3 separate regions of the Homo sapiens genome follow, and all the other regions are linked to region 1. Evidence: fine-mapped expression QTL. A gene starts in region 1. Each other region holds a variant in brackets. All regions are shown on one strand. Distances are between the middles of the regions.

Region 1 (10,715 bases):
TTATATACATGCTTAGAGGTCGACTTTGTGTGGTTAACTTAGTATTACTTTTGAAAGAGCAAAATATGACATTATGGGTAGGTTAATAAAGCAGATATTTAGAATGACAATAAAGCAATATTTTAAGAATTTTTGGAGGAATAAATAAGAAAAAGAATGAATGACATAATTTTTCTAGTTTACTATCTTCATGAAGAGATAAAATATCTGTAGGAAGTGTCATGAACACAATTGATAAGTAATGTACTCCAAGAATACAATGAGAATGTACAAAAATAATCTGTAAAGCATTAAGACAGGTTGAGCAAGATTGTCATTTGAGTCCTGTGGAAAGAAAATCAGACTGGTATTTTTTTCTAAATGCTTTTCAAAATAACAATGGAAAAACAATTAAAAACTCCAAGCCTTGCTCAATGCCACATTATGCAGATAGAATAGGATACTCTCAATTTTCTTGAATTTATGCATGAAACAGTTTTTTATCTTTACATAGAAAACAATGACTTGTCTGTGCAATTTTTCTTGCTTTGATATTCTAAAACATGAATATTCTTTATTAATTAAAAAGGTGTCCATGGTTGCAGATGAGTTCCCTATAAAATATCTCTTGCTAACCAGTAACCAAGAAAACAGAATGCTTCATATGATTTTGAACGTGAACCTATCTCAGCAATCCTATTACAAAATCCAATTATGCTTGTCTCTGCCTTTATGTTTCTTTCGAATGTTTTTAACGTACTTTTTCATCTCCACCTCAGGCAGTCAGGGCTCCTTTTCATTTCGCCTTCCTCAAAAACTTCTATACTTGAACCTCACAAATCCTGGAATTTCAAAAACTAAAAGGTATTTCCCAATTAATTCATTAACAGAACATGTTGAAGGTATAACAACTTTTGCTTACTCTGAACAGAATGGAGGAGTTAATACATTTCTTCCATCTGAAAAGAAATTGTAAAGATCTAAACTTTCTTTGAATATCTACTTGCTCTCAAATAATTTGGTCAGTTGTCTTACTTTAACTTGAAAACTATATTCTTAACGTACGTACACAATTCTAAAAAAAGTTTTAGTCTCAGTTAGAAAAGTCATATGTAAATAATTAGAGACAGTAACTAATTATTAATGTCTTTTTAAAAAATGTTTATGTATATATAATTTCATCTGTTCTAAAAATAATTAGGCAAAGCAATCATGTTAGAAGACACTTCGCTCTGATAAACTGTTGAGATGTTAAAATCAGGAGAAATTGGTAGAATTACAGAAACTACAGTTTGGAAGTAACCTCAGAGGGCATCTCATTTAACTGGCTGCCTCATGGATTGATGCCTTCAGAAAGGTTTAGGAGTAGTGACTGTGCAGTTTCTGCTTCAGTACTTCCAGAGAAAGAACACTCACTCTTAATACAACCAGGCTTTTCAGTTTCTGGAGAGCACAGTTAGAAATCTCTTTCTATTCTTCAGATCAAGGTCTACTTTATAACTCAAACAGTAGAACTCCCATATATTTTTGTAAACAACTTTACATTTCATAGCTTAAAGTTGAAATAAAAATGTGCATCCGTGGCCCTAACTAGGATAAAGTAATATTCAAAACCAAGAGTGGCATCTGACATTGTTCACTTTTGAGACTGAGTTTTGTTTTTGTTTTTTTAAATCAGGCAATATGGTAATCTGTTAGCCTAAGAATATCTATACTTACATGTTCAAACTATAGAATAATTATTTCTTATAATGACTGCCTAGTAGACTAGAACAACTAGGGGGCATGTGGAAAGTTAAGAAAAATCATATTACTTGAGGAATATATGGCTATATTAGTGTGTGTGTTTGCATGTGTGTGTGTGTCTATATAAATGCTTGTAACTGTGTGGATGTGTCTGTGCAGATTTTATGTTGTCTATAGATGTGTCTGTGTGCATGATGAATAAGAAAGGAGTAGAAAGTAAAGATTTATTGTTAGCTCTGACTTCTTCCTTGCATATCATTTAAACTTAACAGCAAATAACACTGGAGAGAACACATTTGACTGTTATACCTGCATACTTGAATCATCTGTGTTCTTACTTGAATATGGGACAAATAGATATTTATAAACAGCTTCAGGTGAATTGTATATTATGTTGAATATGTATATTAGATAAAATCCAAAGATTTTTCTGATGTCATGTTGTGTGTTTGTTGGGATGTGTGGGGTTTTTGTGTGGGGGTGGATAACAATCATTTCTGTTTGGGGAGCCATGCAATTTGACCACATGTAGCCAAGTTAAAGATTGGGACTCCCAGCCCAAACTAAAAATTATGGGTTTTTTTGTATAGAAGAAGTAAAAGATTTTGCCTCCAAAATGTTAAGAGAAAATGAATAGATTTTGCAAGCACATACTATTACCTTCTGAATATCATATTTTGAATATTTTAAAAATTTGGAATTGAATTTTAAATATCATTTATACATTTGAAATCTATGTTTTCTAGATACCCAGAAGGTAAAACCAAAGGATTCATAAAAATATATTGGCAATTTTACTAATTAGAAGTTCTATACACAAATAAGTGAAACCAAAGATATGAGGCTTTTTAAAAATCATTATTATTATAAGAGCATAGATTTGGTTGTCTTTGTTCTATTTTCTGTGCTAAAATTGCCAGCCATCTTGAATATGGCATCTATTATATAATTTATATAATTTGAATATGCCAAATAGTAAATGGTCAATTTTATTTTATAAAAAAAAGCAATTATTGAATTTTATGTTTTCCATTGTCTAAATATATGCTATTGTTTGCCATACAAGTTTAGAAACGTTAAAAAGACAGTTATAAGAAATTAAATCTTTAAATAATTACAGGCTTTGGAGTTTTTTTCTTTCCTTTGTGTTCTTTTCTATAGCTTTTAAAGTTTCTTGGATAGAGGACCCCCTATTTACTTCTCTTGGCTTTGATATTTTTTGGACTCATTGCACTTAGAGCATACTCTCTGATACATTGCGGTTTACTTAAAAAAAATTCTAATCTGGTGCTCCACACCTTCCTATAACTAACTAGACATTTAGCCTTATAATTTACATAGGTTAAGATATAAATCTTGAAAAAGAATATGCAATAACATATCAGACAAAATAAGCATACTTAAAATACATAAAAGGACTCCTAAAAATTGTCTATTAAATGTCAGATAACTAATTGTTTTAAGTGCAAAAGAAATAAATGAACATGTCACAAAAGAAGATCTAAGAATGCCCAATTAACACATGAAAAGCTGTCTAACAGCTTCAGTCAATGGGAAAATGCAGATTAAAACCACAATAAGATATTGTTGTCCAAAGAACCTACAACATTTTACCCTCCCACCAGCAACGTATGAGATTCATATCTGTTTTACATCTTCACCAACATTTTGTATTGTCAGTACCCCCCAACATTCTTTTGGATGTGAAATAGTATTTTACTGCTGAATAATATTCTTACACATTTCTTTTCCTGTGAGAGTTTCTTATAAATATAAATTTACACTTATTCCGTGGTTAAGCAATCCCACCCCTAGGTGTTTTCTCAAGAGAAATAAAACAAACATATGTTCACAAAATGAATTTTACAAAGTATCATGATAGCCTAATTCCTAATAGCTAAAAGTAGAGTACTCCAAACTTCCATGAACAGCAAAATTTTTAAAAATTTACTTTTATTCTTATTTTTTTATTTTTAACTCAGCTTTTTATCCCAAGTCAAGAACTGCTAAACAAATTATGGCATAACAATGAAATGGAAAGCTACACAGTAGCAAAAAGGAAAAAAAAATAGGAATGCATGCAATATTATGGATAGATTTAAAAATTATTATGAGTAAAAGAAGCCACTTTCTAATGTTGCTGGCTATTAATTTTTACAAAGACATTTCTATCACTTTCTACATAGTTCTAAATATGTGCTATCCAGTATGTCCAATAGCTATATGTCAGCGGCTATTACCACCAACAAGGAGCTGTTAAGAACTTGAAATATGGCTTGTGTGATTAAGAAAGTAAATTTTAAATTGTATTTAACTTTAATTAAATAAATGTTAAGATTAAATAGCCACATGTGACTAGTGGGAACTATACTGGACAGCACAATTCTATATCTCGTTTAGAGTGGTAGTTAAATGGGTGTGTACAATTGCCAAAATTCATCAAGCTTAAATCTGAGTAGTTTATTAAATTTATATTATACCTAAAAAAGGCAAAAAAGTTGCAATGTTTATTTGTGAAAGTTTCCATTTAAAAACTAAAACAAGAACTCAAAATTAATGACATAGTTTTGAGGGCATATTCAAGAAGGTAAGAAGAATAAAGCTTCACGTATCCTTAGAATTCAAATAAAACCCGACAGATTAAAACATTAAAGGAGAATCTCAGACCTAACTCAGTTTCTGTCTTTCCAAACGTTACTTTATGTTTATTTCATAGGTGGAATGTTGTACAGTGTCATCTGTTGCTACCAGTGAGTGACATCTGTGATTAATCGCATTGCCTTAATTAAACAGCAATTGCCTGGATGTGATCACCTGCAGTGGCCAGCCTCCAATCAGATTAGCTCCCAAACTCCAGTTCTCTCATTGCAATTAACTTCACTTTTCACATAGGTCCCCAGAGAATTTCAATATGTCTGATGTCAAGAACGGAAAGTGAGACAGCCAGGTGGGAGGGGGTCCCTGGAGAATCTCCAACCAGCCTGCGCACTGGGAATGCGCACTGGAGTGAAAATACAGAAGTTGGTGCCCTTTGCAGCAGCCAGGAGTCCGACTCCTCCTCTTCCTGTGTGGAACCTGGAATTCAAACGGCTGGGTAGGAAGCACGCTAGCAGGGGCCTCTGGCCTTGCTGAGGGTCCCTGTTTCCCCTTTTCCTTCCTTTTCACCCAACAAAACCCTGCTTTACTCACCCTTCAAACCATCTATGAGCCTAAATTGTCGTGGTCGTGGAATGGACAAGGACCCAGTCTTTAGCTGAACTAAGGGAAAGTCCTGCTTTTTGGCGCGCAACAGGGGAGCTCAAGAAACAGTGAGTGAAATGGGGACTCAAAACCTCTCACTGTTGATCCTAAGCATTTTCATCCTCAGACTACTGAGGGTGGGGGAAACACGACCCCAAACTCCGTTGCTCCGTTGGGGGTCGTCGGGGGAAAGGCCTTTTCCTTCCTTTTTCAGGACAGACAGGAAAGCCGGGGCTCCTCACTCCCCCTCCCCTCTGTGCCCGGGACGGGATGCATGGCCCAAGGGTCCCACACAGCTGGCTAGATGGTTCTCAGACACAAGCCACCGCAGCCTTCCTTTTCCCCTGCCAGGGGGTTAAACTTTATCAGAGAGTAATTAAGCTTTAACCCTGCTGTTGAAATCACTTGCAGACGAATAAGAAGTTCTTCCCCAGGCATTTTTAAACCTTTTTTCACTCCCCTTTTCCACCTCCTCAACAAGTAAACCCTTAAAGTTTTTTTTTTGTTTGTTTGTTTGTTTTTTTTTAGAAGACACTTTACTAGGCCACTCCCTCTGCTCCCCAGCTATCACTGTATGCTCTGCAAAGTTTTGCTTGTGAAATAAATCCTCTATTTTGTTTTACATCCTGAGGCCATGGCTTATAACTCTGGCGGCAAGGATTTGTTTAGCAATCCTGCCTTAGGGGATGAGCCCTCTCTAATTCAATATCTGCATGTCCCCTGTCTCTTAAAGGGCCTCACTCACGGCATATGGAACTAACCACGCCCCTAACTAAGAAGGCACACCTTAGTTGCAGTTAGCACACAATTAAAGCAACTCTCCAAGTTTTACCTTAAAGTTCAAAATTGCTAGGAGTTGAAACTACTAGAAATATATTTACATGCAAGGTGAGTAAGAACAGTAAAATGTGTTTTTTAATAAAAGGTTATAAGAAGGCATGGAAATGTAAACTTTTGCCTAGGGTTAAAGGATTGTTTGAGTTAAATTAGGAAAAAGCTGAAGGTTCAAAGAAGTGGTGGGAGAACTGTGGAAATTAATCTTGCAGAAGAGATTCTATGTGAACATATTGACTAAATTCAGAAAAGGGTATTGTTTGGTTTTTCTGTAAATTGAAATAAAAGCATAACAAGATTTTCCTAAGGTGCTAATCTGCTCTTTGGCACATTTGTAAAGGGTTATAACAGGTTTTTGCTTCTTTAAAATTTCTGAGTCATGATTTTGGCAAAATAAATAACTTTTGGTAACCTGGAATTCTATTTCATAATATCAAGTTATTTAAACCTCAAACATTTAACAGCCTTCCCAAAATCAAACCTCAGTTTCAAAATTGTCTTCCCTGGCACCTGGCTTTTCAAATATGTCAGAGGGCCCCTGAAGTGTCCAGAGAAGAGAGGTAAACAGGATTATTTGACATGTTTAGGTACATGGGATTGCAAAAATTATGCTCAGTCTTCTTTAGGTTGTATCTGGGTGAATAATCCTAATACATGTTCCAAAATTGTATGAGATTTCTAGAATTCTAATGGCTGAATATATGCTATCAGTCATAATTAAGGTCGTTATGTTAAGTTATTGTAAACCACGGAGATAACCAAGCTTCTTTGTCAATCGTGTTTCTAACTGTAAGTACCCTGGACATTTTGCTATTCACAGACAGTTGTTGCCTTGTTTAATCCTTCTCAAAGATGGTTTATAATGAGCTATAGAACTTTAACAGGTGCTCTCAAACACAGGCTTCTGGTAACTTTGGAAATTGTAACATTAAAATAAAGAAAAATATACAGGACTCATAAGGAGCTGAAATGCTCACAAATATCAAACAAAACAAGAGTTAACTAAATGGACTGAACTCAGGAAACTGAAACCAGGCTGGGAGCGGTGGCTCACACTTGAAATCCCAGCACTTTGGGAGGCCAAGGCAGGTGGATCACCTGAGGTCAGGAGATCAAGACCAGCCTGACCAACATGGCAAAACCTTGTTTCTACTAAATTAAAAAAAAAAAAATTAGCCGGGCATGGTGGCACATGCCTGTAATCCAAGCTACTTGGGAGGCTAAGGCAGGAGAATCACTTGTACCCAGGAAGCAGAGGTTACAGTGAGCAAGATTGAGCCATTGCACTCCAGCCTGGGTGACAAGAGCGAAACTCCATCTCAAAAAAAAAAAAAAAAAAAAGAAAAGAAACTGAACAAATCTTTTTAACCTTTGCTTGGAATATTGCTGATCCGTGTTTTGTTTTTCAGAGTCAAAGAAACTTTGAACTATTTATGGCCTTTAATAATTAAGTAAGGTATACTCCTGTGATCAAGACTTGGAGCATATTTGTTTCTCTCTGCCTGGTTCCTCTAGAAATTGGAAACTATCAGTGAGTATTTTTATGACAATATAGTTGTTTGCATCAGTGCAGTAAGAGTCCATTTTCAATGGCGGAATTCTTTTCTCACTCTTTTCGTTGTTTAATAATTATTATAGCAATAATAATAATAATAAATACCAATTATTACATTAACTCTCTGCATGTCTATGTTCTTATTGCATTTTCTTATAAGAACACAAGACGTATTGGATTATGACCAACTCTAATGATCTTATTTTACCATTTTAAATATCCTATCTCCAAATACAGTCACATTCTGAAGCACTGGGAGTTAGGATTTCAACATAGGATTTTGAAGGGGCACAGTTCAGTCTGTAACAGTGGTTAAAAACCCAAGTTCAGAAACCAAATTTTCTTTGCACAAATTGCAGTTTTGCAGATTAGGAGATATGAGACTTTGGCAAACTTGCCAAGACCTTGGTGACACTCTTTATGTCTTCTTGTTCTCATCTTTAAAATGAGAGGTGAAAGAGGATTAAAAATTATTACATAAAAACAAAAGACTTAGGATGATGATGAAATGCTGGTAATATATGTTAGATATTAGTATTTTTTATCTCAATAAATTCAATTGCTGTAACTCTTGATTCCTCATCTTGCTACTGTGCAATTGCCCTCCTCTTCCCTCAGTGTCACCCATCAAAGGGTAGATAGTCTCATTACAATTCTTACTTCTATATTTCTTTTCTGATTGATCAGTTCCGCCTCTTTATTGACACTGGGATTTATATGCATTGACTTAAAAATGGAGAAACTACAAGCAGCATTAGAGGCTGTTTTTTAATTAATGAGTCTCTCCGCTTACACCATCAAACTGAAGATTAGCTGTTGATTTATGAGATACCCTCAGCTTGTATCTTGTGCCACATCCAGATCATTGCCAATTCATTTCCAGAAGGAGGATCAGTACCATTATCTGCTCAGTATCTCTCATTTCAAGCACCTCTCAGAGAGAGAACTGAAACATCTTTATCATTACCAGCAGTAAAGCTAAAGCAAAAAGCTATTCTCTGAAGCCTGCTGAGGGGATGAAATTTTTCAAAAAATACATCTCTGGGAGATGGGAGAAAACCTTTTCCACACCTTCCCTGAGAGAAGCAAAAGGGATGTGAGAAAGGGAGGCATTCTCTTCTGCCAGGGTAACATACTCCTCCTATAGTAATCCCACATCACTGAGGGCCCAAGTTCCCAATGCTTCTGCTCTTTATTTCATCTAGACAGCCATTCTTTCTTGCTTTTTTTTTGTTTTTTTTTGAAACGGAGTTTCACTCTTGTTGTCCAGGCTGGAGTGCAATGGCGTGAACTCTGCTCACCGCAACCTCCCAGGTTCAAGTGATTCTCCTGCCTCAGCCTCCTGATTACCTGGGATTACAGGTGGCTGCCACCACGCCTGGCTAATTTTTTGTATTTTTAGTAGAGATGGGGTTTCACCATGTTGGCCAGGCTGGTCTCGAACTCCTGATCTCAAGTGATCCACCTGCCTTGGCCTCCCAAAGTGCTGGGATTACAGGCATGAGTCACCATGCCTGGCCAGCAGCCATTATTCTTATACACACCCACAGACCTAGAGAAGTTAGTTTGAAGTTTCTGTCTGTGCCATATGCTACACTTGAGACCAGTCCCATTCTCCACTTTTCCCATGATGTGAGTGTCAAGTTTTATCCAAGCCTTCACTCCAAACTCATCCTCTGATGCATTATTAGTTCTTCCTTCTAGAGCCCTGTTTTCCTTTCTTTACCAAGGAACTCCTTCCTTTCTTGAACAAGTTAGTATCTGGTCCCATTCATCAGAGCTATTCTGATACTATTGAGTCTATATAGGGTAAGGGTTAAAGCTTGTATTCTTTAATTACCCAGGAAAGGTTGCATGCACTATCACAAGCAGCTGTCAGGTACAATACAGTATCTGGCATGGGTTGGGAGGTAGAGGGTAGGGGGTATTGTTGAAGACTTTGCTAAAAAAAAAAAAACTTAGGTTTTACTGAAGATGCAAATTTAGTCAGTAAAGGGAGGGATACAAAATTCTCTCCCCATCTGCTCTTGGTTCATATGTTACTAAGCTTGGAAAAATTAGATGATTTTTTTAACCAGTGGTTTCCCCCCATTTTGTATTCATCTGTCTTATAAACCAATGGTTTTATAGGGGCATATTTTTAACTGCATGGAAATAAGAATATGTATATAATGAGTTTGTTTTACATGCAAAGTTTAACAGAAGTCATAATATTAAGAAATACAAAAAATTTGGAAAGAATCTAATTAAATTAAGAAGAGAAAATAATAAAAAGTGAAACTATAGGACAACAAAAAAATAAATATGTGGTAGTTGAGACTTCAGGATTAATTAATTCATTTTCAATACTTTTTAACAAAATAATTGTTATATCTACTATTGATTTAGAATTTACTAGGAGCGAGGCATTTCTCTAAATTTGTTTATATTATTATAAATCTTTATAAGTATAATATAAAAATTACTATGTTTATTTTACTATATTTATTTTAAATAATTTATTTATAAATTCACTATATTTATTTTAAAGATAATGAAAGTGAGGAAGTCACAGAGCGATTAACTTTATCACACACAGCTAGTTAGTTGTAGAGCCATGGTATGAATCTGAATCTACAAAATTCCAATTCTCTAAATTTTTTTCTAAGTTGTTTTATGTTTAAGCTATAGTTCTTAGTAATATATTTATATTGTGTTAATTTTTAACACAGCAGTATACTATCTTTTTATGTGTTATTGTTAATAAAATTATATGGCCTTCAAAAAATGTTTAAATATTTTTCAAAGCTTTTTTATATATATACATATAATCATTAAATTTATTTGTGATTTATGTGGCACAAAGACAGGAAAGTATATATATGACAACAGGTAAAAGAATAACAAATCTAAAAATATAATAATGGCAAGAAATTAAACGAATTTCAGAGGATATCATTTTATATTTAAAAAATCAAGAATTAAAGTTTTACAGTATAGAAAAAGAAAGACATGTAATACAAAAGCTGATGAATAGGAAGATGGTTGATAGAAAAAATAAAAACGATGTTGAAAAATAAAAATAATGTCAGAAATAAAATACCATTGTAAATTAACAATTAGAGCAACACCAGTATTATCTTAACGTAATGAAATTGTATAATTTCGTAAAATGAAAAAAATTATAGTACCCAGTTTCAACAAAGGGAGAGGAGAGCAAGCTTGTTAACATTTGCAAAAGTACAGGAGGAAACAATAAATAGATAAAAATAGTCATATTAATGAATGATTATGGAGAGAAGATACCAGAAAGCCAACAAAGATATGATTGGTGTTCTTGATGTAGGAATCAGAAAAGGAAAAAAAGAAGCAACATTCATTC
Region 2 (10,715 bases), 110 kb after region 1:
CTGAGTTCTAGTGAATTCACTTCCACTTATGGTTTTGACATAGAGAGAAATGAGAAATTCTGTCTGATACATAAAATGCAGGAGACAAAGAGAGACCATTATGCTCCAGAGACAGTTGCTCCTGGACAGCTACAAGGTTCAAAGTAACTCAGATGAGCTGTTTGAGAAGAACCTGCATCATTGCTGCAAGCTGAGATTATCTGGATGAGCTTCGCAGAGATCTTGAATTTGCTATGGCCGTGGACTGAGCTCTTCATAGCCATATACTTCTGTTGTGTTGACAGTGGTTTCAGATCTTCCATTTGTTTTTTAAACACAACATTTAAACCCTTTCTATTGATAACAAATAAGGTGGTGTCTATTTTCCTGACTGAACCTTGATTGACTCAATCCTGATAAAGTAGGTATCATTATTCCCTTTTGAAAATCAGGTTATGTTCAAAGAAGTTAGGTAACATATTTGAAAATCACATGACTAATACATGGATCCACTGAGATGTGTTCCAAATTCAAAGATGATTTTGCTCGATGAAGAACATATCAGTCACTAAGTTCTGAGGCTGGTTCTGAAAGTGGTATGTCTTATACTAAATTAATCTATGTTGTATCTACACAAAGAGAAAGAAAAGGGTATGTATCATGACAAAATGTAGGATATCGATCTGGGTGGTGGGAAAAGTTATAAGAAAAGTTATAGGGAAAGACACAAACCTTCTTTGAAGGCTGGGAGGTTTTGCAAAGATTTGGGAGAGAATAAAAGCTGAAGGAGGCTAATTCTTTTACCTTGAGGCTGAGGGCAAGAAGTAGGTAACAAGGGAGTGTAAAGGAGTTTATCTAGATACATTTGTTTACTTATGTTGTCCGGAAACTGACCTTTGATCATCCCCGTGCAAGACTACTCCCTGGGAGGGGGGACGGCAATGTTAATTATCCACAGGTTGTGTTGGCTCCAAGCCTTTGTCATTAAATCTGTACTGAATAAATACAAGTGGCTCTGGCTTATGGAGACTGCTAACTTTCTTCGGCCCCTAGTGCCGGCAGTCCCCTAGCCTGCTCTTTCACTGGATACCTGTGTCTGAATACTGCTTTCATCTGTCGCTCGGTCAGGGTCTGTGGAATGGACCCGGCAACTAAATATAGTAATATAAATTTAATTTAATGTACATTTATTTTCTATCTAAAATAGGGGCAGCTTAATAATGAGAGAACTTCATCATGCAAGTTTATAAGGGTTTTTTTTGTCCAAGTTTCCATAGGTGTATGCAACCTTAAAAGTCTGATGTGCCTTTAGAGTCTATTGGTATTAATACATGAAGACCATTTCCTCATGCAGCAAGCCACCCTGGGACCTGAGACATGATAACTGAAAACTTTACACAGAAGATAAAGACCAATGGCTTAGTTTTTTGAGGAAGGTAACACAGAAGGAATAAGAACATTAAGAGCCAAAAAGAAAAATAATTTAATGAAAGTAGGCAAGTGAAACTAAACTGACTACTCTCAATTTACATGTTTTGAGACAACTGACTCTTCTAAGGTTGAAGTCAATTGTCTTGTCTCCTTGGAAACAAGATGTCTCCTGGATAAAGCCCTCTCCCCTCTCAGGCTAAATTCAATAACCCTTGCTCTAGCTCCATTATCACCATATGTATGTATTTATCAGAAAAATTTCAAACTTTCTTGCCATTTAAAATGGTGGACAGAGGCAATATCTTTAGTTTTGGAATGTCGAGAATCTTTAACGAGGTATGGAGAATTGTAGATGCTTAGTAAGCAGTCATAATAATAATAACATGGGTCATTTGTGTATCTCTTTGGTGAAATACATAATCAACTATTTTGCCCATTTTTAAATTTTTTCTTCTCTATTGAATGGTGAAAATTTTTGTGTATTCTGGATACAACTTATTTACCAGATATACGATTGGAAAATATTTTCTCCTAGTTTTTCACTCATATTTTCATTTTCATAATGATGTCATTCGAGATGCAGAAGTTTCAAATTTTGGTATAGTGCAGTTTATCAATTTTTGTCCTATAAGAATTATTATTTTGGTATTACATATAAGAATTATTTGCCTTATCCAAGGCCAAAAAATTTATTTCTCTCTTTTTTCCAGATGCTTTTGTTTGTTTGTTTTTATGGTTATAGCTCTTATATTTAGGTCTTTGATCCACTTTTAATAAATTTTCTATATAATGTTAGGTAGAGGTGCAAGGTTCCCCCCTTTTTTCTAATAAAAAATATTTCAATGGGGATATATAATTTTTCCAGCAGCATTTGTGAAATGACTATTCTTTTCCTATTGAATTGTCTTTGCACTTTCGTCAAAAGTCAGTTGACCATAAATATAAAGTTGATTTCTGGACTTTTAATTCTGTTCATAATCTATACTCTTCTCTTAGTGTCAATGCCAAATGGCATTGATTACTATGGATTTATTGTTCTTACTTCTTCTTCTCATTTTATGTATCATGAGTATCATTTCAAGTCAATGTTCATGCTTTTGAATAATTTAAGGAATCTTCCTCATACTTTGTAATAATAAACATAATTAATGAATAATGCTTTTCAACTGGTCCCTTATGGATTCATAAAGATTGCCTCCTATGCTGTATTATAAAAGCTTTGTTTGGCTATTCACATGTAATCTATAAATTATTTGGAATGAATTTTTGTAGTATAAATGGGAGGTACAATAATTTTCATATCAGTACTTAAATGCCTCTGCATAAATTACTCGAAAAGACTATAGGTTACTCACTGTTCTGTAGTGCAATCTATGCCATAAATCTATTTTTTTAGACCTTCTTAAAGATTTTCATTAAATTTTTATACTTTTATTTTTTCTACTCAAGTACACCTTTGTCAAATTTATTACTATGTACTTGATATTTTTCATATACTGTAAATTATATCTTTTTCTTTGTAGTGTGTTTCTGAATGTTGTACTAGAAACCAGGAGGTTTGCTCAACTTTCCAATTAATTCTAAAAAATTAATGTTTAGAGTCTATTGAATTTTTAAACACACACACAAAATCCTATTGTCTATAAACATTTAGAGATTTTCTATTTGCAATATTTATACTTTAATTTATTTTAGTTCTTTACAGCATTTTCCAATATTGAATAGAAGTAGTAATTTTGAGTCTTTCTTTTGTCCCTATTTGTACAGAGAAAATATTTTAATGTTTCACTTTCAGTATGATGATTCTAAAATTTTTTGTTTTGTTATGTTTTTGCTTCTCTGTTTATTGTTGAAAAAAATCTTTGTTTAATTAAGTAAGCTCCACTCTATTTGTATAGTAACACAAATTTTATAAGATAATTTTTTCTAAAACTACTGAGATACTCAAATGATTTTTCTTCTTTAGCTTGTTAATGGGATGCAACATGTTGATTGGCTTTTTTAGGATTGACCTTGGTAATGTTGAATTCTCTTTCTATATTGGTTCATTATGTTTACTCATATTTTATTTAGAATTTTGTATCTGGTATCTTTTAGTTTATCTGTAATTTTCTTTGCCTGTACTGATGTTCTCAGTTTTAATATCAAAGTTATAATTACCATTTAAATTGATTTAAGGGGTGTTTCCTCATTCCAGTCTCTGGAATAATTTATTTAAGATTTGAAATATGGTTTCTTCAAATATTTGGTAAGTTTTCCCAATGAAAACATTAAGTCACAAAATTTTCACAATGGTAAAATATAAAATTACTAATTTCTTTTCTGTATTAAATATATAATTACATAAGTTTTCTATATTGCTTGTTTTATATGTGTTGTTAAAAGCTTTGTCAATTTTATTTAGTTTTTCATTTTAGCTGAAATAAATTCGTTCACAATATCTTATTGTCTTATTTTCTGCTGGGCCTAAAGTGAATCAATAAAATTTTCTTATTCATTCCTGATATCAGTGATAAGATTTCTCTTTCTCTTTTTCTTTTTCTCTGTCTCATTAGTCTTGCCAGAGTTTTATCAATTTTACTGGTCTTTTCAAAAAATTAATAGTTTACTTTGTTGATCCTCTCTTTTGTATTTTTATTTTGCTTTTTATTTATTTATGCTTTATTCTTTATTATTTGTACATTTTTACTTACTTTGGATCCTTTTATTTTTATTTTCTTTTTATTGAACTTTGCCTAACTTCTTGGGGTGGATATTTGACTCATTAATCTTCAATGTTTCTTCTTTTGTAATATACTCACTTAACAAAGTTCTTCAAGAAATTGTTTTTCTGTATCTTACAAACAATGTATGGATTGTTTTCATTGTCATTTACTTCAAATATTTATTTTTTTGCAGCTTCTTTGAAATGTGTATTATTTAGAATTGTATTTTTTAGATTTTAATTATTTGGAGATTTCTTAGTTTTATTTTTTATTCATTTTTAATGCAGTTGTACTGCAGTTAGAGAGTATATTCTGTATGATTTCAGTGCTTAACCATATGTTGAGGTTTGGTTTATAGACCTGCAATTAGTCACTTTTTATCAGTGGCCCATATGTGCTTGAAGAAAACATATTCTGCAAATTTTGGTTTTACTCAAATCTTCCTTGCCCTTTCTTATTTTTTTCAACTTTTTCTTCTGTAACTGGAATGCACAGTTACGTAAGTTTCAATTCTCCTTCAATGATTGTTAATATGGCTACTTCTTTCTGGTTTCTCTTTATCTTTGTTTCATATGATTTGAAGCCATATATTGGATGCATATATATTTTGATTTGATGTATTTTCTTGGTACTTTATAAATTAAACTTTTTATTCTTGTGAAAAAGCCTCTTTTATCTCTTAAAATGCTTTTTAATCTTTCTTTCTGAAAGGAAAACAAAATCTGAAATTGATCTCCATGTGCAAAACTAAGTCACACCATCATCTCTGTAGGTAACTTTTCTCCTCTACTTTATATGCTATTTTATTGACAATGACAGCATTCCACATTCATTATTTTTCTTTATATATATATATGTGTGTGTGTTTTTGTTTTTTTTTTTTTTGAGACAGGGTCTCACTCTGTCACCCAGGCTGGAGTGCAGTGGTGCAATCATAGATCACTGTAACCTTGAATTCTTGGCCACAAATAATCTTCTGCCTTGGCCTCCAAAAGCACTAGAATTACAGGCATGAGCCACCATGTCTGGCCACAGTCCTTTTTGTTGTTGTTGTTCCTTCTCACTTATGGCACTGAGTGGTAAGCTTTCTATCTTCTCTAACAAAACTATTACAACACAGCAAGCATACATGGCAAAAGGACCATAGAATCTCATGATTTTACTCATTCCTATGATTAGAACTTATATAAGCTAATGGGAAGCTAAGAAGTAATTTGTAATAGTAAGTAATTTGTCTCTTGTGGATTAGCAGTCTAAATTATATTTTGTACTATGATCTCCTGGTGATAGTTTTAAAAAATCCGTATGTTCACCAAGGAATATGTTATTTGGAATGTATTCTGTCTTTCTCCTAGCTCATCAGAAATACAGGGCATTGTCTAAAATTCCTGTGATGGTTCTTGTCATTAATGAGACTTGTCTATGGGTATCCCTAATAATGTTTGTGTTGATTAAATTATCTGGCCTGATTGTTTAACCTAATGAGAAAAGCTACTTTTTAAAATGCGACTAGACTTCATATTTTAAAAGAGTCCCAGCCAGTAAAAGTTTCCCTAACTGGAAAATAAATATGTATCATTTTTATTGGAAAAAGTAAGTTAAAAAATATGAAATGCAGAGACACTGCCCAAATATTGTCAAGGCTTCACGGGACAGAAACAATCTCTAGCTTCACCCACAATTTAATTATTCTATGCCCAATTGACTTTTTATTTTTCTTCTCCCCAACTCTATCAACATTTTTTAAGATATGAAATGAACAGAGTTAGTGGGACTAATACTGAATTTCTGTGACTTGGCATTTAGCAATCATGACTGTGTTTGCTTCACTGATTTTAAGTAATCTTAATATATATAAATCAGAATGTACACCTGACATGAATCTAAAGATTTGTTAGGAAACCTGCAGAGAGGTCCTTATTGAATCTAAGAATTCATGGCAAGTGGAAAACATACATTCTGAAAGCAGAAAATAGCCTATTCAGGTTGAATTAATCTTGTCACTAACTTATTAGACCAGTTTCCTTAAAGTAATACGAAATATGAAATAGCAAATCTTGGGAATTTTTAAACAATTTTTTGTTATAGCAATGAGTCATGTTGGTTGAAAAATACATGGAAAAAATCACTATAAAAATCAGAGGCAGGTACTGCTGTTCACTTTTTGGTATTTTTTATTTTAATCTTAGTTTTATTACTGTGTATATATGCATAATTTTAACCATCTCTAAAACTTTAAATCTTTTATAACAATGTCTCATTTATTACATTTATCATCAAAATATATATATATATAT[ATTTTT/A]TTTTTTTTTTTTTGAGATGGAGTCTCGCTCTGTCACCCAGGCTAGAGTGCAGTACCGCAATCTCGGCTCGCTGCAAGCTCTGACTCCCAGGTTCACACCATTCTCCTGCCTCAGCCTCCCAAGTAGCTGGCACTACAGGCGCCCACCACCATGCCTGGCTAATTTTTTATATTTTTAGTAGAGAAGGGGTTTCGCCGTGTTAGCCAGAATGGTCTTGATCTCCTGACCTCATGATCTGCCCACCTCGGCCTCCCAAAGTGCTGGGATTACAGGCGTGAGCCACCGCGACTGGCCTAACATATTTTTAAAACCTGCAGAATGTTTGTATTACTTTTGTCATAGTACATAACATTTAAATGGATTTCTTGTTTGTGTATGTGTGTATATTCATTCACAACACTGATAGTTTTTCTGAATATTTCCTTTGGATTTTATTCTTTTCTCATTCAACTAAATAAGAACCTGCACCATCTTTTTCTAGTGTAAAAATTACAATATCTGAAGTGAAACTACTAGAATAAATCTTGTGACAATTCTTAAGGATTATCTTTTAGTTGGTATGGTTTCCAAAAAAGATTGTACTAAGTTTTACTCCCAGTGGAAATATTTAAAGGCAATACTTCCATTTCTTTTTTACAGAATAGAATCCAATTATTCTTTTTCATCCCATTGTTGTATACAGACTTTATTTCATTTACTTGTAGATCAAAGGTTTTTTGGTTTCCTATCTTTTGGACACTGTTTTGGGTACTAGAGAGAGCATGAGTAGCTAAGTTTCTGAAATTTACAGTGAATGGAAAAAGATAGGCATAAATGAAACAATCACAAAAATAAATGTAACAGCTACAGTTACAGTTGTAAAACTGTGGTCAGTGCTATGGAGGAGTGTACAAGGTGATATGAGAGATCATAATAGGGAAGTTAAATCTCTGGTTCATGTAAAACTGCCATGGACACACTCTCAGTGAACTTAGAGCTAAAAGAGGAGTAATAGCCATTAGACACAAAAAAGCAGATAGAAAATGTTCTGGGAAGAATAATGTCTATAAAGGATCTGGGGTAGGAGAGAGCATTGTTCTTTGGTGATATGAGATTGGAGGGATAGGTGAATATAAAACATAAGCATAAAAACTAGATAGTATTTAAATCCTTTCCTTGGATCTTAATGAGAAGCACTAAAGAGATTTAAATAGAGAATGACAACATGTAATTTGGCTTTTAAACAAAGTTATGTTTTTTAATGCAGAAAATAAATTGGAATGAAGCCCATGTGAATGCATGGAGACAAGGTGAAAAGGTAGATGAGAAAAAAGTTGGAAATATTTGCAGGTACATTTGACAGGACCAGGAGATGTCTTGGGCATTCATGATGATGGAAGAGTGGTCAATAATGACTCTATTTTCTAGCTTGTATCATGAGATGAATGGAGACCCGTAGAAGAATAAGTTTTGTGAGTGACTGGGTCATGTAATATATTTTGGATTTGTTAAATGTGAACTACTTTTAAGAAACTGTGGGGAAAAACTTCGTTTTGTTTACATCCATGAATCATTTGAAGCACGAAAAATAATTCTCAGCTGAAGATACAAATATGAGGGCCCTGGGTGTATAACTGAAGGCACGAGTATAAATGGGATTATTTAGGGAGGGCTTAAAAGTGGATAGAGAGTAAATTCACAGACTATAGGTACAAAATAATCACCAATGACAATATATTATGCAGCTTAAGACCAATTGTATGTATTTTCCTGACAATGTCTTTTAGAGCCTGTGACTAGTTTTCTCCTGAAGATGTGGTGATCTTCTTATCAATTTTTAAGAGTACTTAAATGTTTTAACAATTATATTTAACTCAAAATTAGTTTCCAACTTGTTTTCCTTTAATTATAATTTAAAGTGTATATTTTATGTGTACGAATATTAAAAATTTATGAAGTCATATCTATTGCCTTTGTCTCTTATTACTTTACCAATGCTTACAAAAACTTTCCTCATTAATGCTTATATAAATCTTCTTTTTTATTGCAAATTTTTCCATTCTTCTGGTTTGTAAAATGCCTAAAGTAAAATGTGTATCTGAATTAATTAATCGTTAAATATCTTTTCAATTTTCTCAACCCAATATATTGGACAATTCACCTCTTACTCCCAGAGTTTTATCTCTACATATTATTCCTATGAAGCTTTTACACATGCTGAGACTAAATGGTCTGTTCTATGTCATTGATTCTATTTGCCTAGTTGTCTATTTACCTTGTAGTTTTGAGGTAATAAATGGTCCTTTAAACTGTGTGGTGTTTGTGTGTGTGTATTTAAATTTTCTCAATGCTATTTTTAGTAAAGGTAGATTAAATGTGACAAATAACTACCCAAATGGAAACAGTTGAGGTAACTTGATGAATTGACTATAGTTATAGTCTTTTAACATACCTATTAATTATTTATAGAAAGCAAAATTAAAATAAGCTAGAAAGAGAAGATTAAATAAAGAGAGTAACATACTGGAAAATATTTACCAGATATTTAACATTATCATAAATAATTTAAGTATTCTGAAAACCAAGCAGAGGGAGCTTTGTTTATCTGAAATTTTTGGAGAACATTTATGAACTGGATTTATAAATAGATTTGCTAACTGGTACTTTGTAACTTCTAAAAAGCAGACTAGTTTATTTTCCAAAATAAGTGAGTTCTTTAAATGACTCACGACCAATTTAGACTTATATTGAAGAAACATCTAGAAACAAATACTTTCCAATTTTTTAAAAATTGACTTTGGTGTCATGAACTTAATGTTTATTAATTAATATTCAGAATATTCTAACATTTTAAAGATGACAATACAATTTACTTTATATACAGCAGTTTGGTAAAGAAAACAACAAATAATCAATTTAAGTGAAATAACCCATTTTGAATATGTATTTTAATTAACTCGTCAGAGATGTTAATTGGCTTTCTATTATTTTGGACAGTTGTGGTGCTTTGATAAGCTCAGTTTTTCTTCTTTACTTTTATCTACTTTAGCATGAATTAATTTTTATATTTTATAGATATGTAAAATTTTACATACTTTATTAATTTTAATAAAGTAAAACATAATTCATGCTAAGAAAATTAAGTTTATAAAACAACTGACAATGAACAGTTTAGCATAGCCTTCAATCTCACTCAGACTATATTCTCTCTTTATTTCATTTTAAAATCCAGTTATTTCAAACTGGAACTGTGTTGTAGAAGAGAGCTTTAATATTACTTTTTATTGTTTCTTAATATTTCTAACTATTCTATCTTCAAGATATCCAAAGAGAAAGGAATTTCCACAGTGTATAATTATTTATTTTCATGTTTAAAATCTTAGAAATCACTCCCCAATATTATATATAAAAGAAATACTATTAGAAAGGAATATTTTTAAAACTTGTTTCTAAAGAGTGAAGTTTTGCTTCACTCTTTAATGATGGACAAGAACGCCTTCCCTAAACTTGTAATGTGGCTGCCGCTACTTATAGAAGCCTGGTGATAATTGCCCTATGGGCCTTTTATGTAAGATGAATCAAAACTTGCAAATATATAATTGCTGAATTAAACACTCACCTTAAAGGAACTGTTCCAGAATATAACAGAAAATCAGTCAATCTCTTTATGCAGGTTCCTTGATTTTAGCAATTTTCAAACAGATATGATTAGGTTGGTGCAAAAGTAGTTGCAATTTTTGCCACTGAAAGTAATGGTCAAAATCGCAGTCACTTTTGCACCAACCTAACAGAAGTTTTAATTGGCGTGCAATCACTTGTAGAGTGCCTTGAATAATATAAGCATCCATACTCTAGCCTGAATCTCTTAAATTGGAACCTGTGAAAATGGAACCAGGTGACTATAATTTCTTTAAAACACTGTGGAAAGATGATCTTAATGCAAGGCAGTGATTAACACAAGAAAATGAGCAGTAGAATACAACTAAGAATTCATTACTTACTACTATTTTACAACTCTAATGGAAAATGACCTACGATTTTATTAGAAAGGTTTAGAAGAAACTAAGCAGAAGGATTGTGAAGAAATCAGCATGATAGAAAGAGCTCTGGACTGAAGGTTAGAGGACATCAGGCATTTTTTTCCTTGGAATCTCTGAGTCTCACTTGGACTCTGTACCCCAGTCAATAAACACAAGAGTGTACCGGGTAATAGTAACAGACATGTGCTTGCTTTCTGACAACCACTTTTCCTTTCATTTTCCCATTATTTCTATACCTCTTTTTAATAATCCATATGGTCCTGGATTAGTTGACCCCA
Region 3 (10,715 bases), 140 kb after region 1:
AAAAATCTTTCTCCTGGAAATTTGAACAGACCAAAATAAAAGGGATAAAGATACTAACAATGGGGGAATCCAATGAAGCTTACGTAGGTCTTTGTCCCAAGCCTCCAGATAAGACGTCATTGTCTTAAGAAATTTATACTGGCCTGTGACATCCTGAGTATAAAGCCTAGTTGAGCTGCCTGACCTCATGGAACTATTGTTTTAAGCCACTATGTGACAATCTGTTAAGTGGTGATACAAAAGTCATTCATGAAAGGTCATAAAATGATTTCCTCCAGTATCCTTCCTTAGAAAGTTTCTGAAAACTGTGCACTACCTAAACGAGGCTGAACCAGATTCAGGTTTCAACAAGGTTGAAGTCAAGAAAGTAATGTACAAAAGGTGCATAAAATAAGAGATTCAAGACAAAAGGCAACAGAAGGAAATAGCCAAGATAATAAGTGAAGAGAGATGACAGGTAACAACTGTGTACCAGACTGGAGCAGAAGAGAAGGCCCCAGGAAAACTTTCCTCAGTTAGATTGATTTGATAGAATAATTCATGAATGAAGACATTGGGGAAAGATTTAGACAATTGTTAGAATGTTTAGCATTAAATAAGTGAAAAATACATCAAAAACTAAGCAACCTTCCTTCTCTGCATCCCTAAAAATAAGATAATTATTAACTCCAGAGGAAAAAAAAATTGAAGCAGGAAGTTTTTTCAATGGCCATAGTAAAATAGATGGTTCAGCTTGAGTAATGTTTTCATACTTACAACATGAATACTGAAATCAACAAAAATCAAAATTACAATTTAACTAGACTAGATATACGGGAAAAAGGGAGGCTACATGTGTTGGGGTGGTTTAGGGGCTTGAAAAGGGTTGAAAAAGACCTACCTTCTAATATTCTCTGGTAGGGGCAGTATATAATAGTATATAATGCTTAAAACTTAGAAAATAATCAAGGAGTAGCTAAATAGGTATATTATTTGGACATATACAGTTAAATTCTAGAATAAACGTCAAACAGAGTTGAAAGTGGTAGCCTCAGGTTAGAAGGGAATTTAGGATGTGTGAATTGCTACAAGGACCCTTGTAGAACTATTTTACCCCCAATTTATATTGTGTGCAAGTATAACTTTTAATAATAGTGAAAACCATAAATAATTATAAAAACAAGAAAATGTTTCATATAAAACAACAGATTTTATATGAATTTCATCAGTTTCCACTTCTCTCTATTTCGGTGTCCAACCCAGAATCTTATTTTCACACTGTGCATGTATCTTCTTGGTCTCCTGCAATATGTGACAGTTCCTCCTTCTTTCTTTGTATCGCATTACCTTGACACTTTTGAAGAGTATTGATCTACAGTTTTTTCCTTTATAATTAAAAACATCCCAGAAAGATAATCCTTGTAAAAAATATGTTTCTTTTCAAGTTGCAGCCCACTAAATTTAGCATCCATAATTTATTATTATCCTCTCTCATAATTTACCTATTTATTCAATAATGTATTGCTATCATTAAAACATGATTAAATACTGATAGCAATTAATGTATTGCTATCAGTGTGGATCCATATATGCTTCTATTATTCTATGGATTATAATAATTACTATCAGCATTTATCTTGCTATTCAAAATTTTCCGATTCTAGCCATGAGTAGCTCCTTAAGGTTGACTCATGTGTGCTTTCAACATGTTACCCGCTTTTTCTGAACATGTGCTTACTTTCTGACACAAGATGCTCTAGGCTCATGTTGTATTTTCCCTAAATCAGCCTTGAGTTCAACCATTCCTCCAAAGACGTTTTATCAGTCAGGGCTCTCCCAAGAAACGGAACTACTAAGATGTGTGTATATATGCATATAGAAGGATTTATTTTAAGAAATTGGCTCACACAATTATGGGAGCTGGCAAGTCCAAAAATCTGCATGGCAGGCCCACAGGCTAGAGACCCAGAGAAGAGTTCATATTGCAACTCAAGTCTGAAGGCAGTCTGCTTATAGAACTAGCCTTTTCCTCTGGGAACTTCAGTCTTTTTCTGTTAAGGTCTTCAACTGATTATATGAGGGCCCCTCACATTAAGGAAGATAACCTTTTTACACAAAGTGTACTGTTTAAATGCTAATCTCATTTTAAAAACACATTCATGACAACATCTGGACTGGTGCTTGACCAATTATCTGGGAACTATGGCCTAGACAAGTTGATACATAAAATTAACCATCACAGAGCCCCAGTTCCTCTTTTTGGATACCACTTACAAACCAGCACGTGGATGCTAGGTATGCTCACTGTTACTGGGAAATCAATGCCTCTCAGTGTACAGAGCTAAGAACATTTGTATAAATACTGTAAAGTATATGTATAAATACTCATCCACACAATTCTTTCTCTCCCTCAATCTCTCTCTTTCTTTATGTGTGTGTGTGTGTGTGTGTGTGTATGAGTTCTTACTTATACTTTTAATTCTAATTCAACATAACAAGACCCTCCTCTTTATTTGTAACTTTTTTCTACAACGCTGATAAAACAATATATGTGTGTAAAGTCATTTCAGAATTACTCACACTCTTATGAGAAACAAATTTCCTAACTGTATGACAGTATGTGTGTACAGTTTCTTGTGTCTTTAGCTTTAGAGTATCTGGTCAAAATATTTTTTTCCAATGTTATTTGGGTTAGCTCTTTTCTTCCCTTCTACCTTCAGTGTGATTATGTTATTCATCTGTAATGCATTTAGCTTCTTTTGTTCCTGTTTTTATTACCTTTCTGGTGGTAGGTCAATTTTTAATTTAACATTAAAAGACAATACTTACATAATGAAGAGTGAATTTTTAAATTTAAATTCCTATTAATTTTTTAAAACTCTGTATTAATCTTTAAGTATTAGTTAATGTCTTTCATTTTAGATTTTGGGTAAGCTCAGTCCCTCATGGGAAGATGGAGGGGAAGAAGCCATTGACCTTGCTCAGCATATAGATTTGTTCTCTCCTCTTCTAGAATTTGCCAGTTCTCTTGATGCTCACCCAGTACCTATAAAACTGTTATTTTTGTGAGTAAAAAGCAAGCCAAAGTGCTAGCATGTTGCTTGACACTGCCATGATAACTCTCAAGAATTGTGTAAGACATCTGGTTTGCTAAACTAATTTTGCATTAGTTTTTCTATCTAGTGAGAATTTTCCACAGAACATGGAAACTATATAAATGTACTTCCCAGAGATTACTCTAATTCAACAGTAATACTTGATCATGTTTTAAAAATTTTTATTGATATATAATATCCATATACATTTTTTGACAGTACATGCAACGTTTTGTTACATGCATAGAATGTATAATGATTAAGTCAGAGTATTTAGGACATCTACTACTTTGAGTATTTTTCATTTCTATGTGTTGGGAGCATTTCAAATCCTCTTGTCAAGATATTTTGAAATATACACTACATTGGTGCTCAGTATTGTCACCCTATTATGATCTTGAACATTAAAACTTATTCCTCCTAACTATATGTTCACTTGATAATATTAATTAAAATAGGTTTGTCTTCAGACAAATTGCAAGCATCATTTTTTCTACAGAAATCACATGAGTCTACTGTGTGATTCCCTGTTTGTGACATTCTAGAAAAGGCAAAAACTGTAAGGACAGAAAACGAGTCAGTATTTATTTAATAGGGTGAGGACTGACTTTAAGTGGGCATGAGGGAATTTTTTGTTAAAATGGAGGTTGTCTATATCTGGATATTAAAGACAGCTACATGAAAGCATACAATTGTCAAACCACATTAAACTGTATACTTTTAAATGGTTATCTTATGGTATTATATTTCAATTATAAAAACATGTTTAATCACAGAGAACAAGAGCCAAAGTATTATATATTGAAAGTAAGATTTAATGACAGCATTTATAAACATGTTGGAATATTAGATAATTCAATGATATGCAGTGAATGACCAAAAAGACTATTTTTATCTTAGGCTAATTTTCTTCTGCAGCTTCCTCACCTCTCTCAGCCTTCATAGAATTAGAGAGAGTTAGAACCTTGCTCTGGATTAGGCTTTGGCTTAAGGGAATGTTGTGGCTGGTTTGATCTTCCATCCAGACCACTAAAACTTTCTCCACATCAGCAGTAAGGCTGATCTGCTTTCTTATCATTTGTGTGTTCACTGGAGTAGCACTTTCAGCTTCCTTTAAGAACTTTTCCTTTGCATTCACAACTTAGCTAACTGGTACAAGAGGCCTTGCTTTCAGCCTCTCTTGGCTTTTGACATGCCTTCCTTCCTCGCTAAGCATAATCCTTTCTAGTTTTTGATTTAAAGTGAGATATGTGGTGACTCCTCTTTCCACTTGAAAACTTAGAGGCCATTGTAGGATTATGAATTGGCTTAATTTTAATATTGTTGTGTCACAGGAAATAAGGAGGCCCAAGGAGAGGGAGAGTGATGAGGGAATGGCTGGTGAGTGAAGTAGTCAAAACACACACAACCACAGGATTTATCCATTAAGTTTGCTTCTTTATAATGTCGTGATTCATGGCATCCCAAAACACTTACAATAATAAAAAAAATCACTGATCACGTATCACCATAGCAAATATAATAATAATGAAAACGTTTGAAATATTGCAAGAATTACAAAAATGTGACAATCAGAAATGAAGTGAGCATGTGCTGTTGGAAAAATAGCTTCCTATGGATTGGCTTATTTGAATAATTTTCCAGGCTCCAAAGCATAGGGCTATTCCTAGTTGTCTGAAACCTGGCCCCAGAGTGATTTGGGTTGGAGCATAGTGGCCAC[G/C]AAGGTGAGAGCTCTTTAATGGAAATGGTGGGGGTATGGACTTCATTAGCTGCTAAAAAGAACTGAATCACCTGTAGCTAGAGACTCAACATTGGGTCAAGATACCATTTAGTTGAAACACAAACCAAAAAGCTCCATTACAGTCCTTATCCAGGTCTGTTAAATCAGAACCTGTGTTTTGAAAATACCTCCAGAAGATGCCAATGCACGTTCAGATTTGGGAAGCACTGCTTTAAACAATGCTTTTTCAAGAGCAGTTGAAACATTACAAATGTTTAATTCAGAAAAGAAGAAATTTTAGATGGATATGGAAAGTGAGTCAAAATATATTTTTAGGGACTTTGGGTGGGTCTAAATATATGAGGGCTCTCATAAGACATTTGATCCCATAGGAAAGAATAAGAAATATCAATTACAAGTTCAAAAACATAGATTTTGTTAAAATAAGATCCTGGTAAAGTGACTACATTATTTGAGGATCATCTTTATGGAAGAATTATATAACCTTATTCTGTTTGACTTAGCCATGAACACTCAACTTGTTCTGGCCAATGAAACGTGAAAGAAAAAGACATTTGTTATCTCCAGACAGAAACTATAAGAAGCAATGAATATTTTGCCATTTTCCCTTTCTTTGATTCTGGAATCACAGAAGTATATGTCAAGATAGAGCTTCCAATAGCCTATGTATCTCAGGAACTAAAATAAACAGAGTGTCTTGGCATACTGCAATAGATACATAGTGTAAGCCATAAACATTTTATTTTAAAAAACTTTTTGGGTTTCTTTGTTTGTTTTATGCCTCTGAAATTTGGAAGTTACTTGTTATTGGTGTAACATAACCTAAGGTGACCTGACAGATACGTGACAATGATGATAGAACTTTCTAAGATATGCAGCTTACAAAAATGCATTTTCTTCTGAGAAATAAGAATGAGGGTCTGCAACTAATTAAACACAGATTTAAATTGCAATCCCATTTCCATACCATTTATATTGGCTGGTATTTCATAGGTGTTTGATAAGTGTTATTTTTTATTCCATTAACGCAGTGGTTTGTAAATAGTCTTCTGGAGCTCCATATTTTTATGCTGGTGCCTGTGGGATCATGGTGTACCTCAAAGAGGATGGTGTGGGTATAGGCTTCAGGTCGGCAGTCTCCTATTCAATTCGTGCAACCCTACTTGAAAATTTTTACATATTACAGTGGCATTTAAATTTAGCTGACTAAAAATGTTCAAAAGGGCATGGAATGTAAAAAACAGTGCTCTACAGAATTGCTTGTGAATGAAAATGTTCTAAACATTTCAGTTAAGTATCATTGAGCACCATTGGTGACAATATGTCTCAGTTTTCTCAGGACAGTCCTAATTATTAATTAGTGATTTTTCCCTCTTTTACTCTCAAAAACTACCTAATTGGATAACAAATTATATGGCCACCCAAATAAAAAGCTCAGTACAATGACTACGAATAAATGATTATAACAATAAATAGTTAAAATGTACATGTCACAATATACTACAGATTTCTTTCCTTTGTTAAAAGTGATTCTTTGTCACCTGATGAGTCAATCAACCAGATGCACTTTAAAATTACATTTAAACTTTGAAATTCTATTACAGCATAAACAGAAATAACCTAGAGTAACACTCTGAAGAATGAGGAGACTGTCATTGCTAAGAAAAATACATTTTGATAACACCAAATATACGGAAGCCATGAGAAACAGACAATGCTAATGGAACATGATTTTAATATTTGAAAGCCTTATGTGGTTCTAAGAGATGAGATGTATATTATAAGAGTTCTATCAAGTTCAAAAGTCTTTAGAGTTGTAGGGAACAGTTAATTAACTTGGAGAACTTAAAAGCAACAAAATTAATATTACAACCAAGAACTATAGCCATCAGTTACCAGTTACATATAGTTTTACTTAAAAAACATAGGTTCTAAATCTAAGGCACGTGTTCAGCATCATCACTTCATCTTTCTGTAACAGAGTATGACAACTGTAAATAGGGTTCACCTATATCATCAGTGTTATAGTAAATTGTTCAACTGCATCCTAGCCAATCGTCCTGTTTCTTAAGTACTTAGAAACTCAAAGATGCAGGTCCAAAAACATTGCTTTAGGAAAGCAGCCCTTCACAGTATTTGGGCTTATATAATTGTGATTGCAGTGGTAAGCATTTGAAAACTTATGAAAATTTAGAATCACTCAAAATACAATTGACTCCAGGTTATTAATAATTTACATTAGGAAATATAAGTATAAATATTTACATTTCAACTATTTTAATTGTTTAAGACAATTTGACCTTTCAAGAAGATAATTTTAAAAAGTAACTCCAATCTCAAATGTATAATTGTAAATTGATATTTAATTTGAAGACTTCATTAATTTAGAAACAATATTGAAGGGTTTATGATAACTTAAAATTTTTAAAAGGTCTAGCATATTATGATTTTAAGAGTCACAAAAGTGCTTGAAAAGGTTTGTCACCCAGATAATGGGGAAAGTTAAAAAGGATATCAAGTATTGCAAAGTATCTGATTAGTAGAGAGACTAAATTCAGATGCCAGCATAAAGTTTAAGTGCCTCACACTGTTATTTAACTTGTGTTGGCCAATATAAACCAAATTTAGAAAATTCATCTTTCATGCCTAATATGTGAATGAAGAAAAACAAAAAAATTTTAAAGAAAATTCATCCTTTTATAAGCCTAACTGTTTGTGGGAAAAAGACAGTTACCAAAAGCAGTCATAAAATGACTGTGTGCATTTTCCTAAGTAGTCATATACCAATTCTGTTTCCTCATAATTTCCAGCCATGCTTTTCAGACGTATAAATGGCAGCATATGGCCACATAACAAAGTTTAAGAAACTAAGTATTATCATAAATTTCACAGAACACTAGCCTCTTATGAGCAATGGGAACTTGGGAATAAATCTAATCTTTGTGATAGAACAGTATCTCTACATTTCATTAATTGAAATAGATAATTTTCAAGACTTTTCAAACCATAAATGCAACCCAGTATGAAAAGTCTAAAGCTCAGGTCTAGAGTTCTTATCTGATGGAATGTTTAATCATGAAATCAATATTTTGAGAACAAAAATTCTAGTGAGCTGTGTGTGCCTGGGGAGAATATTTTCATGGCTTGTGATGCTACTTAATAAGTGAAAATCACTGAGACACAACCTGAGAAGGAAGTCTGTGAAATAAAACATTTAGCTGTTTTTACAAGATATTGGGCAATGCAAATTATGTTGTCTAACCACTGTGATTTTTTAAAGCTTGCTGATGCCTATGCAATGACTTGTCAGGGTGGTAAAACTCGTGGTGCTTTTTATCCTGAGTTCATTGATACCTGATTTCATTTTTTAAATCACTCTGCGTCAGCATTGAAAAAAGGTAAACAAAACTTTTACAAGATGAAATTTGAGGTGGAGAAAATAATGGCACATCATTTCCATTCCTGTCTTCTTTTATTTTATTTTCTTTTTTTTTTAAGGAAAGCATACAGACTGGAAGAACAGCCCTGTATGGGTCCTTAGAAGCATCTATAGTGCACTGGGCAGGAGTACTGACACTTTCCCATGTCTTGCACACAAGGTTTCTGTAATTCATTGTAATCACAGTTCCCCACATCCCTACTTGCTACAAAGTTCTACAGAGATGAAGCATTTTGGTTATGTCTAATGCTCTTAGAAAATGATTTTCTAATTCTAGAAAACACAGGAAAGCCACCAACAAAAAGACTTTTTTTTTCTTGAAACAGTAAAAATAACATGGTTTAAAAAATGAAAGAATAAATATGGGTAAACTCTGGTCAAACAAGATGTCACTTACTAAACAGAAAGATAGAAGAGGTAAGGAATTGATGCCTGGCTGGGTGCGGTGGCTCACGCCTGTAATCCCAGCACTTTGGGAGGCCAAGGCGGGCAGATCACAAGGTCAGGAGATCGAGACCACCCTGGCTAACACAGGGAAACCCCGTCTCTACTACAAATACAAAAAATCAGCCAGGCCTGGTGGCGAGCGCCTGTAGTCCCAGCTACTCGGGAGGCTGAGGCAAGAGAATGGCGTGAACCTGGGAGGAGGAGCTTGCAGTGAGCGGAGATTGTGCCACTGCACTCCAGCCTGGGAGACAGAGCGAGACTCTGTCTGAAAAAAAAAAAAAAAAAAAAAAAAAAAAAAAAGAATTGATGCCCCTAAGTATGTGTGACTGTGTTGACTTGGTGCAAGGGAAATGTACTGCTGATTCTCTCTCATCCTTCCCTTTTGGGGCTTCTCTCTTTTCTTTTACAATCCTTACTATCTCTGCTCTATGAATCTAGGTACCTACGCTTCCCTAGTGGGTAAGATGCACACAATGTGAGCAAATGTGAATCAACTCACTGAAAGCAGTTGTTTTGAGTCTCTCAATAAAATGTACGTCTGTTGGCATCTCATTGAATCTAGGCCCAGTTCACTTCTCTGAAAAGATAGCTAATTAGTCTAAGTATGATAGATATAGATACACGCCACCTGTCAGGAAAGAACTGCCATGCTGCAGGAATGTGATCAGCAGACAGCCATCAACATTCAGCTCCTTTATAATCAGCCTCTGCTTCAGAAAGTAGCCTTGCCAGAGGTCATGATTTTCCCTGGGCAGCCCACATTGGATAAATAAAAGGCTGGGACATAAAGGTACAGTCATTTCAGCTCAAAATAGGACAACTAGACAGGTAATACTTGCTCCTGATCTCTTCCCTCACATTGGCTGAATGTTTGACAGACATACATCAGAGTACGACTTCTTCCTCTAACCAATCTTTCTTTCTTTACCTTTCACAGGTATTAATCCCTAATAAATACTTTGCACCCAAAACTTCATCTTAGTGTATGGTGCTGGAGCTTTCCGAACTGTGACATCAACTAATTTCTTCTAAAGTGTTATTAGCAAATAGCAGCTTAATGTGCCACACCTCTGAGTACACTGTAGTTTAAGAAGAGACCCCTGAAAACACAATGCCTTTATCCAAAAATAGTCATTCTAAAATGCTAGGATTCTTGTAACTTGGTAGGCTAGAAATTTACATAATGCTTAGAGAGCAAAAAAAAAACCTTCCTAAAGTAATTTTAATGTATCTCATTAAAAGGCTACTTATTGTTCATTAACCATTTACCAACACAGCTAGAAAAAAAAAGCCACAGTTAATTCTACTAAAAATGGATAATTTCACTTTTGATAGTATACATAATTATTTTAAAACTAAAAATGTTTCAGGCACTGTATTAAATTCTGTAAATTTATTTTCACCAATTTATTCTTGGAGCAATCCCTTATGTAACTTTATAGATAAGAAAACCAAGGCTCAAAAAAGGTAGATAGATAGATGATAGATAGATAGAGAGATGGATAGATAGACAGATAGATAAAATGAAGATGCAAAGCAAAAGCACAAGTCAAAATATCAAAAGCCTATGACCCTAACTTTCTGAGTAAAAAGCAAAGGTGAAATTTGGGAAGGGGAAATAGTATAGGTTCTATCATTAGTGTTCATCCTATCACTGGCAGATCCAGAATTTTGGAGCAGAGACTCAGCAGAAAAAAAGAAGAGGAAAGGTTAGAGGCCTGAGATTATTTCAGGACTGATTCTTTTTGGGGGGAATTGCCTTAACCAATGTCAAATGCTGCAGGAAAATTTTGTATGAAGTTTGACATAAAACGCTATAAATAAAATATTTTAACTTGAGTTCCCTGTTTAGAAAGTAGAACTTTAAGAATATATTAAAAATCAATATATTCCTACCAAGGGTTTTGATAGCAACTGACTAAAAACACGAATAAAAGCTCAGCATTATCACATATTTATTGAGTCTCAACACTAGACAATACCATTTGAAGCACAAAGACATGTTATCTCGATA

What was found. PIP is the estimated chance that this variant, and not a neighbour inherited with it, causes the effect. A credible set is the group of variants that fine-mapping cannot tell apart.
Region 2: its variant is the best candidate, but not a certain one, in a credible set for the expression of LINC01515 in prefrontal cortex (BrainSeq, PIP 0.74).
Region 3: its variant is the best candidate, but not a certain one, in a credible set for the expression of LINC01515 in nucleus accumbens (GTEx, PIP 0.53).

The regions. Positions count from the first base shown.
Region 1 is chr10:65,565,727-65,576,441 of GRCh38, forward strand. LINC01515 (long intergenic non-protein coding RNA 1515) reads left to right here and starts at 5,699. Exons shown (of 6, transcript NR_120647.1): 1 at 5,699-5,853; 2 at 7,209-7,330. RefSeq lists a silencer at 1,212-1,412.
Region 2 is chr10:65,674,526-65,685,240 of GRCh38, forward strand. All of the region lies in intron 3 of LINC01515 (long intergenic non-protein coding RNA 1515), which reads left to right. Among named protein-coding and RNA genes, the nearest start is that of LINC01515, 110 kb to the left of the region's middle. The variant ATTTTT/A (reference allele first, on the strand shown) is at 6,413.
Region 3 is chr10:65,706,020-65,716,734 of GRCh38, forward strand. The region is part of intron 4 of LINC01515 (long intergenic non-protein coding RNA 1515); the gene reads left to right. Among named protein-coding and RNA genes, the nearest start is that of LINC01515, 140 kb to the left of the region's middle. The variant G/C (reference allele first, on the strand shown) is at 4,795.